4 linked regions of the Homo sapiens genome follow. The protein of the gene in region 1 purifies or fractionates together with the protein of each later gene. This does not show direct contact. Each region holds a gene or a part of one and is shown in the gene's direction. Other genes may lie near its edges.

What was found. Proteins that work in one complex are often made in the same cells at the same time.
Region 2: the proteins of TGFB1 (region 1) and UBR1 purify together in Homo sapiens (affinity purification with mass spectrometry; 4 studies listed by BioGRID and IntAct, with this or other methods). This does not show direct contact.
Region 3: the proteins of TGFB1 (region 1) and NICOL1 purify together in Homo sapiens (affinity purification with mass spectrometry; 3 studies listed by BioGRID and IntAct, with this or other methods). This does not show direct contact.
Region 4: the proteins of TGFB1 (region 1) and NMT1 purify together in Homo sapiens (affinity purification with mass spectrometry; 3 studies listed by BioGRID and IntAct, with this or other methods). This does not show direct contact.

What each region holds. Positions count from the first base shown.
Region 1 is NC_000019.10:41,333,423-41,336,922, reverse strand, and holds part of TGFB1 (transforming growth factor beta-1 proprotein preproprotein), read left to right. Parts: intron 1-3,500. UniProt on the Homo sapiens protein: Transforming growth factor beta-1 proprotein: Precursor of the Latency-associated peptide (LAP) and Transforming growth factor beta-1 (TGF-beta-1) chains, which constitute the regulatory and active subunit of TGF-beta-1, respectively.
Region 2 is NC_000015.10:43,019,039-43,022,538, reverse strand, and holds part of UBR1 (E3 ubiquitin-protein ligase UBR1), read left to right. Parts: intron 1-1,163; coding exon 1,164-1,264; intron 1,265-3,500. UniProt on the Homo sapiens protein: E3 ubiquitin-protein ligase which is a component of the N-end rule pathway. Recognizes and binds proteins bearing specific N-terminal residues that are destabilizing according to the N-end rule, leading to their ubiquitination and subsequent degradation.
Region 3 is NC_000004.12:2,040,797-2,044,464, forward strand, and holds NICOL1 (NELL2-interacting cell ontogeny regulator 1 precursor), read left to right. Parts: upstream 1-1,198; 5' UTR 1,199-1,272; exon of another isoform or gene 1,273-1,379; intron 1,380-1,530; coding exon of another isoform or gene 1,531-1,555; coding exon 1,556-1,688; intron 1,689-1,939; coding exon 1,940-2,028; intron 2,029-3,064; coding exon 3,065-3,130; 3' UTR 3,131-3,168; downstream 3,169-3,668. UniProt on the Homo sapiens protein: mRNA-binding protein which interacts with a range of target mRNAs including SERPINE1, ACTA2, CCN2 and COL4A1 and may promote extracellular matrix production.
Region 4 is NC_000017.11:45,067,817-45,071,316, forward strand, and holds part of NMT1 (glycylpeptide N-tetradecanoyltransferase 1), read left to right. Parts: intron 1-3,500.

The sequences.
Region 1 (3,500 bases):
GTAGACCTTACTTGAATCCTTATTTACACAGGCTTAAAAAAAAAAGATATTTATGAGACAGTTGGGTAAATGTGAACTCTGTCTAGATATTCCTCTAGATATCAAGGAATTGTTAATTTTCTTACATGGTATTGTGACTGTGTTTTAAAGTAGTCTTAATTAGAGATACATTTGAAATATTTATGGATGAAGCAACACGGTGGATTGCATGTGCTTTGAGATAAACCATTGTCGGCTGGCTGCAGTGGCTCACAGCTATAATCCCACCACTTTGGGAGGCCAAGGCAGGAGGATTGCTTGAGCCTAAGAGTTGGAGACCAGCCTGGGCAATATGGTGAAACCCCATCTCCCAAAAAAAAAAATATGAAAAGTAGCTGGGCCTGGTGGTGTGTACCTTTTGTCCCAGCTACTCAGGAGGCTGAGGTGGGAGGTTGGCTTGAGCCCCAGGAGCTGGAGGCCACAGTGAGCTGTGATTGCACCACTGCACTCCAGCCTGGGTGACAGAGTGAGATCCTGTCTCAAAAAAAAAAAAAAAAGAGATAGTGGATAGGGGTAGAGATGCAATGGAAATTGGCCATGAGTTGGTCATTGTTGAAGCTGCTTTTGTGTACATCTGAAACTTTCCAGCTGGACGCGGTGGCTCACACCTGTAATCCCAGCACTTTGGAAGGCTGAGGCGGGTGGATCACATGAGGTCAGGAGTTCGAGACCAGCCTGTCCAACATGGTGAAACCCTGTCTCTACTAAAAATACAGAAAAATTAGCTGGGTATGGTGGTGTGTGCCTGTAATCCCAGCTACTTGGGAGGCTGAGCCAGGAGAATTGCTTGAACTTGGGACATGGAGGTTGCAGTGAGCCAAGATTGCACCACTGCACTCCAGCCTGGGGCAACAGAGCAAGACTCCATCTCAAAAAAAAAAAAAAAAAACTTTCATAGGAAAATTTGTTCTTAAGGCAGCTCGAACACTACCTCCTTCCTAACCCCTTTCTCCAACATCCAAGATGGATGTGAGGCCTCTGGGCTCCCCTGGGGCCCTAAGTAGATCTTTGACTCAACAAACAGTCTCTGTTGGGTCTTTTATTTATAAAAAGTTTTGTAGCGACAGGGTCTCACTATGCTCCCCAGGCTGGTCTTAAACTCCTTGGGCTCAAGCGATTCACCGGTCTTGGCTTCCCAAAGTGCTGAGATTACAGGCGTGAGTCACTGCACCTGGCCTAGGTCTTGAGAGACTGGACGGAAGAGGCTTGGCAAGGGCAAGGGCTGTGGGTATCCCAAGGCCCGGTGCAGGGTAGGCCCCGAATGTGTGCTGAAAAAATGAGTCAGAGGATCACCTAGACGGCTTGTTCAACACGGACTGTTGTTCCCAGTCCTGCACACAATTTCTGATTTCAGTGGCCTGGGGTGCCACCTGAGAATCTGCATTTCCCATAGTTCCCAGGTGATGCTGCCGCTGGTCCTGGGAGCTCACGTGGAGAGCTGCTGACTTGGATAACAGTATCACAGATTGTTCAAATCCTAGGATCTCAGAACCCCAGCTAGGGTTGAACTGCATATTAAAGATGATTCTGAGCCGGGTGCGGTGGCTCATGCCTGTAATCCCAGCACTTTGGGAGGCCGAGGTGGGTGGGTCACCTGAGGTCAGGAGTTTGAGACCAGCCTGACCAACATGGTGAAACCCAGCCTCTACTAAAAATACAAAAAATTAGCCAGGCATGGTGGCACATGCCTGTAATCCCAGGTACTTGAGAGGCTGAGGCAGGAGAATTGCTTGAACCCGGGAGACGGAGGTTGCAGTGAGCTGAGATCACACCATCGCACTCCAGCCTGGGCAACAGGAGGGAAACTCCATCTCAAAAAAAAAAAAAGATTCCGGACACTAGTTCTTCCCCTTTTGTGAGTTCAGAACTTCCTGTGAGAAAGTGAAAGCCAGGACTCTTTTTCCCAGAAATACATGCATACATACACACATGTGCATATGATCTCAGGCACTCATGGCCCTCCCTAAGCCTGCCCATGATGGCCCCTTGGCCCTCAGCTTAACACCTTATTTTATCTAGTAGCTCCTACCTCTGAACAGATGAGGAAACTGAGGTCCAACCAAATTGGGTGGTACGGGCTGAGTTCACAGGGATCTCAGTTTCTTGACTTCCTTCTCAGGCTTCTGTGGCTCTTGGAAAGGCTTTATCTTGCCTCTAGGTTATCCGGTGCCACTTGAAGTTGGGTTCAAGCGATTCTCCTGCCTCAGACTCCCCAGTAGCTGGGATTACAGGTGCCCGCCACCAGGTCCAGCTAATTTTTGAATTTTTAGTAAAGACAGGGTCCTCAAGTCTGCCTGCCCTAGCCTCCCAAAGTGCCGGGATGACAGGCGTGAGCCACCGTGCCTGGCTGGCCCCACCAATCTATGAGCAGAGGTTGCAGTGAGCCAAGATTGCACCACTGCACTCCAGCCTGGGTGACGGAGCAAGACTCTGTCTCAAAAAAAAAAAAAAAAAAAAAAGGCATTGTCAACTTTTTCTTTTCTTTTCTTTCTTTTTTCTTTTCTTTTCAAGACAGAGTCTCACCCTGTTGCCCTGGGTGGAGTGCAGTGGCACGATCTTGGCTCACTGCAACCTCTGCTTCTTGGGTTCAAGCAGATTCTTGTGCCTCAGCCTCCTGAGTAGCTGGGATTACAGACAAGCACCGCCACACCCAGCTAATTTTTGTATTTTTAGTAGAGACGGGGTTTCGCCATGTTGGTCAGGCTGGTCTCAATCTCCTGATCTCAGGTGATCCACCCGCCTTGGCCTCCCAAAGTGCTGGGATTACAGGCGTGAGCCACTGCACCCGGCCTCTTTGACAGTTCTAAGAAGTAAAATAAACCAGAAGAAGGCAGGCAGAGAGTAATAGATATTGGGAACTGTTATTTTTCCTATTCTGATTTAAATTCCTTTATTATGGAAAATTTCAAATGTATACAAAAGCAATGAAGATAATGAATGCCCGTAAACTCTCATCCAGCGTCATCGGTAATTAAGATTTTGCCCCATTTCAAATGCAGACATTTTTATATTTTCTTGCATAACTGCAATACCGTATTGCACTAAATGGAACTAACAGTCACTTGGATATTTTGGAAAGGATGGCTCAGAAAGGTATCTCTGAGGAGGTGATGTTCAGTCATGTAACTGATATTTACTAGTACCTACTGCATTCCAGACACTGCTTTAGGAGTTAAGGGTCCCTGAGTGAAGGACATTTGAGCTAAGGTTTAAATGAAGTGAAGGGGCCAGGTGTGGTGGCTCATGCCAGTAATCCCAATGCTTTGGGAGGCCGAGGCGTGCGGATCGTTTGAGCCCAAGTTCGACACCAGCCTCAGCAACATAGTGAGACCGTGTCTCTAAAAAGAATAACAAATTAAAAAGAATAAATAGGCCAGATGCAGTGGCTCAGGTCTGTAATACCAGCACTTTGGGAGGCTGAGGTGGGCGGATCACAAGGTCAGGAGTTCGAGACCAGCCTG
Region 2 (3,500 bases), on another chromosome or scaffold:
TGTAACTAATATTTTCAAGTATACTAATATATTTTTTAATCCCTTACTATAATCTTTACTACAATCTTTTTACTACATGATCGCCCCACTTTTTTTTTTTTTTGGTTGCATATATTGGTATTTTTTAACTTTCATTCCTCATCTCAGTATTATCAAATATTTGCTGCTGTGTCAACCATAGCATTCAAGTGACATGTCTTAATAAGATATTGTTTCTGAATTTTAAATGATAGAAATCTGAATGATAACGTTCATTTTGCGTTGTATTCAACTTGGAAGAAAAGGATAGTTTTAAATTAGATTTCTAATAAATGCTACCTGATTAAGATAGTTTTTTTCAAAGCACATTCCAGGCATGTTGATTATAAAAACAATAGGAGACAAACATTTTCTATTTACATGCTGTATTTTTTAGATCCCTGAAGACATCAAAAACCTATTCAGTTTATGGATATACAGTCCTCCACTTCAATATTTTTGGCAATTTTGTTTCTCATTAAGCACTTTTGCTTAGATGTTGAGTCAAGCAGAGGAAAGACCAGAGACAGATATTTAGGGTAGCTTTCACTTAGCAGTGCCAGTAAAAGATGTAAGAGAGAGACTTAAAGTCATTTTTAAATTTAGTAGATCATATCATTGTAATCCAGTACTTCATATAATTGCAGATTTGTCCATTGAATAATTAATGAAGTTAAGGGATTGATTGGCAAACCTTGGTTATCAATGTAAATAACATTAACTAGAAATTGTAATTTGTACATAATTATGAAGACATAATTGACCCTCCATATCTGTGGGTTCCATATCTAGGGATTCATCCCATCGCAGTTTGAAAATATTCAGGGGGAAAAAGGAAAAAGGATGGTTGTCACTGTACTGAACATGTACAGACTTTTTTTTCTTGTCATTATTCCCTAAACAATATTATCTAATAACTATTTACATAGCATTTACATTGTATTAGGCATTATAAGTAATCTAGAGATGATTTAAAGCATACAGAAGCATGTGTATAGATTTTATGCAAATACTACACCATTTTACATAAGGGAATTGAGCATTAGTGGACTTTGATGTCCACAGGGGTCCTGAAACCAATTCCCTGAGGATACCAAGAGATGACTTTATGTATTTATGATGTGTGATTTTGTGTTTTAAAAAAGGATTGGGAAGTTCAGCCATGAATATACAAATGCTTTTGGAAAAACTCAAAGGAATTCCCCAGTTAGAAGGCCAGAAGGACATGATAACGTGGATACTTCAGGTAAACTAAAAAAGTAAAGTGATCATATCTTGGTTTAAATATTTAAGAATTCTCTGCTTGCCTCCAGTGTTAAACCACTGTACCATTGTAGACATTTACTACTGGTTTTCATAATCACTTATTTTTCATGTTAATAATTCTATTTTCCTATATTTTATTGTAGTTTTAAAAATAAACTAAGATTTATTCATTTTTTTTGTCGTTATTTAGTCAACTTTACTGAAAACCTACCATGTGCCATGCTCACTTATAGATTTCTAGATGGAACAAGGCAGACAAGGTGCTTACTATCATGGAACATATACTCCAGTTGAGGGACAGACATTAAACAAATAAATAAACAAAAATATCAGGGTAATTCAATAGATGAGTAAGGGGTTACTTTGGGTAATTAGGGAAGGCCTCTCTCAAAACACGACATTAGAGCTAAGACCTTAATGACATGGAGTCAGTCTTAGAAGAGTCTGGAAGAGTACTCCAGGAAGAGGGAACAGCAGTGCAAAAGCTCTGTGGTGGCCAGAAAGAAGGTCAGTATGGCTGGAACATAATGGGTGAGGGATGGAAAAGTGGGCAATGAGATCAGAGGGGTGGCCAGGGGCCGGATCTTGTAGGTCCTTATAAGTCAGCATAAAGTGATAATTTTTTAGGACAATGGGAAAATATTGGAGGATTTTAAGTGACCTAATCTATATTTGTACAAGATGGTATTGGCTGCTGTGGAGTAAATGGATTATGGGGGATAGGCATACAAGTAAGGAAACTGTTAGGAGACTGTTGCAGTAATCTTGATATGAAATAAGCATGACCTAGGCTAAGATGCAGATAGTAAGAATCTGAACTGATTAAGGTGCATGTCGAAGGTGTATGAAGATAAAATCTATAGTACTTGCTCATCAGTCTGATGGGAGAGATGAAGGAAATAAATCAAAGATGAGGCTGGGCATGGTGGCTAGCACCTGTAATCCCAGCACTTTGGGAGGCCAAGGCAGGCAGATCACCTGAGGTCAGGAGTTCGAGACCAGTCTGGCTAACATGGTGAAACCTCATCTCTGCTAAAAATACAAAAAATTAGCCAGGCATGGTGGGGCACACCTGTAGTCCTAGCTACTTGGGAGGCTGAGGCAGGAGAATTGCTTGAACCAGGGAGGTGGAGATTGCGGTGAGCCAAGATCGCACCACTGCACTCCAGCCTGGGTAACAGAACAAGAGTCTGTCTCAGAAAAAAGGAAATCAAAGATGACTCCTGGATTTGGTGCTTGAGCTATTGAGTAGATAGCATTGCCTTTGGAGACGAGTGAATTAAATAAGCAGGGGAGAGAGAGGCCAGGAATGTTACTTTAATGGAAAACCTCCACATAGAAACATAAAACCGGCCAGGCACGGTGGCTCACGCCTGTAATCCCAGCACTTTGGGAGGCGGAGGCGGGTGGATCACAAGATCAGTAGTTCAAGACCAGCCTGGCCAAGATGGTGAAACCCTGTCTCTACTAAAAATACAAAAAAAAAAAAAAAATTAGCTGGGCGTGGTGGCAGGCGTGGTGGCAGGCGCCTGTAATCCCAGCTACTCAGGAGGCTGAGGCAGGAGAATCGCCTGAACTCTGAGGGCGGAGGTTGCAGTGAGCCGAGATCGCACCACTGCACTCCAGCCTGGGCGACAGAGTGAAACTCTGTCTCAAAAAAAAAAAAAAAAAAACCTGAAGCCAGGATTATGGAGCTTCTGCACTCATTGCATTCATTAAGATATTCTGATGTTTTTAGGTAAGTATTGTTTTGATAATCAGAATATATAAAGTAGTTATTTTTCACATTCTTATCAATTGGAAATCTTGGTACTGATTTATACTTTTAAGAGGGCAGCTCTTCTTACCATTTTATTAGAAACAGTCCTTAAGCATGATGTAATATCATTATTGGCCTGGCGTGGTGGCTCACGCCTGTAATCCCAGCACTTTGGGAGACTGAGGCGGCGGGGTCACGAGGTCAGGAGATCGAGACCATCCTGGCTAACATGGTGAAACCCCGTCTCTACTAAAAATACAAAAAACATTAGCCAGGTGTGGTGGCGGGTACCTGTAGTCCCAGCTACTCAGGAGGCTGAGGCAGGAGAATGGCTTGAACCCGGGAGGTGGAGCTTGCAGTGAGCCGAGATAACACCACTGCACTCCAGCGTGGGCGACAAAGCGAGACTCCGTCTCAAAAAAAAAAAGATAGTGATATTATTAAAATTCTTCTTGAA
Region 3 (3,668 bases), on another chromosome or scaffold:
CCAACCCGGAGGAGGCAGCGGCAGTCACGGGCACGCTTCCCCAACCCACCCTCCCACCCACTCTTAGGGTCAGGACACCCGCGTCCGGCCGGGGCAGGGGCGGCTCTGACCACGCGAGAAGCAGGTGCGTCCGCAGTCCCAGCTTGTGCCGGGAAGACCACCGGCCAGAACCCCGGGGGTTGGGGGTAGAGGTCGGCTAGGCTGGGGAGGGGGGCGCCCGAGGCTCCGGGTCCTGCACGGCGAGCGGGGCGGCCTCCAGGTAGGGGTGCGGCTCCGCCCACCAAGAAGAGGGTCTGGCGGGAGGTGTGGTTAGTCCCTGAGCTCCCGGCCACAGCGCGGGCTGCTGGGTGGGGTGGGGGGGGAGCGGGGGCGCCAGCACCCACGTGCGCCTGGGGCGCCTTCTGAGGAGGCCACCGCCTGTGTCGGTGTCGGCGTGGGGGCCTGGCTCCGACGGCTGGGACCATCCCTCCCAGGGCGTCCGGGGCCCAGATTCGCACTTGCCGGGCGCCCCCGGGGGCCACTGGCTGCACGGCGCTCTTTAAGGCCAACAGCCCTGAGTTCACGGGACTGAAATCGGCACAGAGAGGCCGAGGACCTGTGGTCGGGGCTCCGCGCAAGCGGTTCTCCGGTCTCCGAGGACACCGAGAGGCGGAGAGGAGGACCCTGGGTTGGGGGTGGGTAGCCGGGAGGGACCGAGCAGGCTGGTGCCCACCCTGACGCCCGAGGATCGGGGAGAGGCTGGGCCAGGGAAAAGCCGGGCGAGGGCGGATCCCCCGAGCCGATCCCCCAGACCAGCTCTCTCCGGGCGGTGCGACCCCACACTGGACCCCACTCGCCCGCGGTCGGAGGCCAAGCGTTTGCATGCGCAGCTCCCCGCGCCTCGCGAGCATCGAGCAGCTCCCTCAGGATCGCTCCTGACCTGCTGAGCTCCAGCCACAGATTTCCCACTTCCTCAGCTTTTCTCCCGCCGGCCTTGCGCTCTGGAGGTCTCGCCCCGGCGCCGCCTCCTCCAGGCAGTCCTCTAGACTGCATCCGCCATGGGCCTGGACGCTGCTCCCGGGGGCAGCCCCCGGCCAGGGCCAGGCACACCCGATTCCTGGAGCGTCCTAGGTTCCTCTAAACCCGCGGCCAGCGCAGTCTCGGGTTTCCATGACGACGACGTCGGATGGGGAACCCGGGCGGGGTCGGGTCGGAGCGCATGCGCGTTGCGCGCCGGACGCGGAACGTCTGCCGGTGTCCCCGCGCTGCTGGTCCCGGGGTCCCTGAACCGCGGTAAGGGCGGTGGTGCGGGCGTCCGAATGGGCGTTTTCTAGATACGGGGCGCGGACTAGAGGCTCGCTGGGCCCGGAGACCGGCGGACTGGAGTCGGGGAACCGGAGGTGGGGAGGGGGCTCCCGGGCCCGGGGTGGGTGGGTCCAGGGCTCCCAGGCCTGGGGCTTGGACAAGGGTCGTGGGGCCCGCGGGAGGGGACGGGGGCTCACCGGCCCGGGGCGGGCGGGGCGGGCGCCGCTGACCCCTCGCTGGCTTCAGGGCGGCCCCGCTCCCTCTGCTGGCCATGGCCCCCCCGCCCGCGTGCCGGTCCCCGATGTCACCGCCGCCGCCGCCGCTGCTGCTGCTGCTGCTGAGTCTGGCGCTGCTGGGCGCCCGGGCCCGCGCCGAGCCCGCCGGGAGTGCCGTCCCCGCGCAGAGTAGGTGCCGGGGGCCGGGTTCCGGGGAGCGGGGCGGGGCTGGCGACAGGGGCGTGCGGGGCCGGGGCTCTGCGGGGAGGACCGCGCCTCGCCTTTGTTCCCGGGAGCGGGTCCTCCCCTTCGCGGGAGATGGTGGCTTGGGGAGTGGGGACGTGCGCTCTTTGGCACTGGGTGGACGGGCCCAGAGTGCGTGGGGGCCTTGCGGGTGACCCCCCCTGCGCCCCCTCCACCCTGACCCGCGCCCCCCGCAGGCCGCCCATGCGTGGACTGCCACGCCTTCGAGTTCATGCAGCGCGCCCTGCAGGACCTGCGGAAGACAGCCTGCAGCCTGGACGCGCGGGTGAGCGCCCGCGGCGCGACGGTCCTCCCGGGCTTCCCAGGGGGTGGGGAGGGCAGGGAGGATGAGGAAGAGGCCCCCTGCGGGAGTGGAGTGTCCCTCATCCTTCACCCCGATTTAAGATGCCGCACCTTGCCCCCTTCCTCTGGCTCCAGTCATCCAAGGGGCATTCTGGGCACCTGTCTCACCTATGAGACGCCCCTCTCTCCAGCATACTCTATTTCTAGCCCCTCCCCCAGAAGGCTCTCACTGGGCACTTTGTCCTATGACCGCCACTCCTGAGGGCTGTGACAGATCTGGACCCTGGGGAAGGACTGTCAGCCCAATCCAGGATCCCCTAGGTGGGCGGCAAGGCCCCAGGGCAGAGGAGAAACTGAGGCCGGAGGATGTGGCGAAAGTGTCAGGAATGGGGGGTCAGGCTGGGCAGGGTGGTCTGGATCCTGGGTGGATGCACAGGTTGGTTAAGGCCCCTCCAAGCCTGGATGAACAGGGAGCCCCCACGCCATGGGGTGCAGCCAAGGAGTTTTTGTTTGTGCCGGGGCTCAAGCTTCTTCCTGGAAAGGGAGAATTCTAGGAAGGAGAAAGCAGGGAAGACCCTGCCTGGTCCCACCCCCCACCAGCCCTAGTGTCCTTCTTGGGAACACTCCAGAGGGCTCCGACTAAGACCTGGAGCCCTCTCCCCACTCACAGAGCCTGGAACTGAGCTCTTGGGAGGAGCAGCCCCCACCTATCCTTAGGCATGAGGGTGGCAGGGAGTGGGGGACAGTGGACCCCTGCGGGTGGTGTGGGAGCTGGAAGAAGGCAGGTGGGCACGCTGGCATGGCGTGGGCACCAGCAGACCCCAGGCAGGCCCCACCAGTGGGAGCCACTGCAGAGGAAAGAGATGAGTGGGAGGCTCTGGGTGTGGGGGTTAGAGCCAGGGCCTGACCTTGTCTGTCTCAGGAGCCGGTGGAGATAGGGCTGCCTTGGGTGGGTGGAGGCCCAGGGGAATGCCAGTGGGCAGCTGGGCTGCACCCTCACCCCTCTTGTTGCTTTGCAGACGGAGACCCTACTGCTGCAGGCAGAGCGCCGTGCCCTGTGTGCCTGCTGGCCAGCGGGGCACTGAGGACCACGCTGCTCCGTGTGAATAAATGCCCAGTGGCACGCCTGTGTCCTGTCTCTCTGTTCTGGCCACCAGAGCCCCTGCGTCGCCCCCGGCAGTCCTGGGTTGGGCCCCTCTCTGGGCTTGGGTTTCCCCAGCTGTTCCAGCTGGGCGAGCCCTCTTGGCTGCTGTCCCATACCAGTGCCCGTGCGGAGAGGTGGACACACACGTCCGACCTCAGTGACCTGTGCTTCCTCGTACCTGCTCCCCTGCCTGCCTCCCCTTGTTTTGAGGCTGGGGAAGTGTAGAAATCGGCCTGACCCCCCTGAGCCCCCAGAGCAGCTGCCCCAGGGCTGAGCCCCTCCAGGCTCCTGCACCACTGAACTGGTGGACCAGCTGCCTGAGACTGTGGGAGACAGAGGGTCCCGGGGAGAGAGGGCAGGGCCACCCCACACAGCATCATCTCCCCTGCCAGCTCCCACCTGCAGCCCTGAGCCTGGACCCTGGTCACTGGGGAGCTCTGGATGGGAACTTGATGAGGCCGTACTGCCATCCACACACC
Region 4 (3,500 bases), on another chromosome or scaffold:
AGAAGAGACTGGAAAGCAGAAGAAATGGAAAGTAAATGAGAGCCTATTTCAGGGACTCGCTGCTCATGGCACAGCAGTTTTGCTGATTTTTCACATTGTTCAACTAATATGCTCACGCTAAAATTCCCCAGCTTTACTAAGTTGGCAGTTAACCCTTTCCCTATAGAGCCCATAGATTTATGAGCCATACATTTAGTAACTTCAGGAGGATGCTTCTTTAACTCTTTCTCTTCAGCTTTTTATCTGAAATCTCTACCCTTCAGGCCTCTCTTCCAATTCCTCAAAGAAGATGTCCTTGTGATTGTTACATTTAAGGGACAAAAATATGGTGTTCTCTATTGAGAGCGCCAAAAATACTAAACCGGAATTCCTCCATAGGCTCAGTATTTGCCTCAAAAATGTCCCAGCACTTTGAGAGGCTGAAGTGCGCAGATCACTTGAGGTCAGGAGTTCGAGACCAGCCGGGCCAACATGGCAAAACCCCATCTCTACTAAAAATACAAAAATTAGCTGGGCGTGGTGGCACACACCTGTAGTCCCAGCTACATGGGAGGCTGAGACAAGAGAATCACTTGAACCCGGGAGGCAGAGGTTGCAGTGAGCCCAGATGGCGCCATTGCACTTCAGTCTGGGCGACAGAGAGAGCCTCCATCTCAAAAAAATAAACAGAACAACAACTTTCTAGAGCTGCTCTCTTGAGAGACAACTGAGGAGTCACTATGGTTAAGTGTTTAGTAAATGTTACTATTATTACTACGTAGTGGGCATTGTGCTAAGCCCTTTACTTGGATTATATCCTCCATGATTTCACTTATGAAGACTTTAGCGATTTTTGTTTGTTTGTTTCTTTTTTTGAGTCTCACTCTGTCGCCCAGGCTGGAGTACAGTGGCACGATCTTAGCTCACTACAACCTCTGCCTTACAGGTTCAAGCAATTCTTGTGTCTTAACCTCCCAAATAGCTGGGATCACAGGTGTGCACCACCATTCCCGGCTAATTTCTGTATTTTTAATAGAGACACGGTTTTGCCATGTTGGTCAGGCTGGTCTCGAACTCCTGGCCTCAAGCAGTCCACCTGCCTTGGCCTCCCAAAGTGCTGGGATTATTACAGGCGTGAGCCACCATGCCTGGACTTTAGTTTTTTGTTTTTTTGGGTTTTTTTGAGACAGAGTCTCACTCTGTCGCCCAGGCTGGAGTGCAGTGGCGCGATCTCGGCTCACTGCAACCTCTGCCACCCAGGTTCAAGCGACTCTCCTGCGTCAGCCTCCTAAGTAGCTGGGATTACAGGTGCCTGCCACTGTGCCTAACTAACTTTTGTAGTTTTAGTAGAGACGGGGTTTCACCATCTTGGCCAGGCTGGTCTTGAACTCCTGACCTCGTGATCCATCCTCCTTGTCCTCCCAAAGTGCTGGGATTACAGGCGTGAGCCACCATGCCTGGCCAGACTTTATTTTTTATTATTTATTTATTTATTTATTTATTTATTTATTTTTGAGACAGAGTCTCGCTCTGTTGCCCAGGCTGGAGTGCAGTGGCGTGATCTTGGCTCACCACAACCTCCACCTCCCAGGTTCCAGTGATTCTCCTGCCTCAGCCTCCTGGATAGCTGGGACTACAGGCACATGCCACCACGCCCAGCTGATTTTTGTATTTTTAGTAGAGATGGGGTTTCACCATCTTGGCCAGGCTGGTCTTGGAACTCCTAATCTCGTGATCTGCCCACCTCAGCCTCCCAAAGTGCTGGGATTACAGGCATGAGCCACCACTGCGCCCAGCTAGACTTTAGTTTTTATAGTGAGGCTTGAGATTTGCATCTCCACTGGTCTCTTTGACATCTCAGAGGATCCATTCTGAACTTGCTAGGTTTCTTTCCCCTGCTGAATTGAGTTCTGCATCTTGAGTCTGCAGCAGTGTGAATCCTATCTTTGGCTCCATTTAACAGCCTATGGACGTTCCCAAACTTGGGACCCAGTTTGTCTCTTCATGATAGACAAATATTATTTTCAGAAGTCATTCTAATCGCACCACTGCACTCCAGCCTGGCAACAGTGAGACTCCATCTCAAAAAAAAAAAAAAAAGTCATTCTAGTAGGTGAGATTTCTGCCAGCATTGAGCCACTGCTCAACATATTCTTGATAATGGTCTCTGAACAGCATTTGATTTTACCTTGGAGTTGCAAAGTCAAAGTCTAACTCGCCAAACAAACTCAGTGTGGAATATACACATTTGTCTCATTCCGGTTTTAAGGAGTTTAGTATACCAGAGCTTTTGTGACCTCTAAAAAGCAGTTATCGTCCATGACAAGAATTGGCTCGTTCACCCTCAGTACTCTGGCTTACTATCCCAGGGAGGGCCGAGGGTGGCAGCAAAAGTGGTCTTTTGTAATCCCTTTTTATAACCTGCTGTTCTCTTCACAGACCTCCCAGGGTACCTTTTTTTGTGTGTGTGTGTGTGAGATGGAGTCTCACTCTCACCCAGGCTGGAGTGCAGTGGCGTAATCTCGGCTCACTGCAACCTCTGCCTCCTGGGTTCAAACTATTCTCTTGCCTCAGCCTCTCAAGTAGCTGGGATTACAGGCACCCGCCACCATGCCTAGCTAATTTTTATTTTTTATTTTTGAGACAGAGTCTCGCTCTGTCACCCAGGCTGGAGTACAGTGGCGCGGTCTTGGCTCACTGCAAGCTGCGTCTCCCGGGCTCACGCCATTCTCCTGCCTCAGCCTCCTGGGTAGCTGGGACTGTAGTCGCCCGTCACCACGCCCGGCTAATTTTTTGTATTTTTAGTAGAGACGGGGTTTCACCGTATTAGCCAGGATGGTCTCGATCTCCTGACCTCATGATCCGCCCACCTCGGCCTCCCTAAGAGCTGGAATTACAGGCGTGAGCCACCGCGCCTGGCCAATTTTTGTAATTTTTAGTAGAGAAGGGTTTTGCTATGTTGGCCAGGCTTGTCTCGAGCTCCAGACCTTAGGTGATCTGCCCGCCTTGGCCTCCCAAAGTGCTGGGATTACAGGCATGAGCCACTGTGCCCAGCCCCAGGGTACCTTGATGGCAGTACTAAAGTGTTTTTATTTTTCCCATCATTTGGGATTCACAAGCAGTTTTTGATATAACTAATTGGTGGGAATGTGCGGAGTTGGGGGTATTGCACTGAGTGATCCTTAGCCGCAGAAGTACAGAGACTAGACAGCTGATACTGATTCATGCCATGTCATTTCCTTCTGGGCATCTTTGCCATTTCATTCACCTCTCTTTGGTCTTTCTGAGTACTAATAGGATTATTAGTGAACTTACCATACTTCAAGAGTTAATTGATTTGCAAAAGGATTTCCTGATGTCTAAAAGTAGAATCAAAAGGATATTAGAGGTTAGAGTTTATTTTAATAAGTTTCTCTGGAAAATTTGAATTTCTGCCCAAAAAATTCATTTTTTATTTGAGACAAGGTTTCACTCTGTCACCCAGATCGTAGTGCCATGGTGCAGTCCTCCTACTTCAGCCT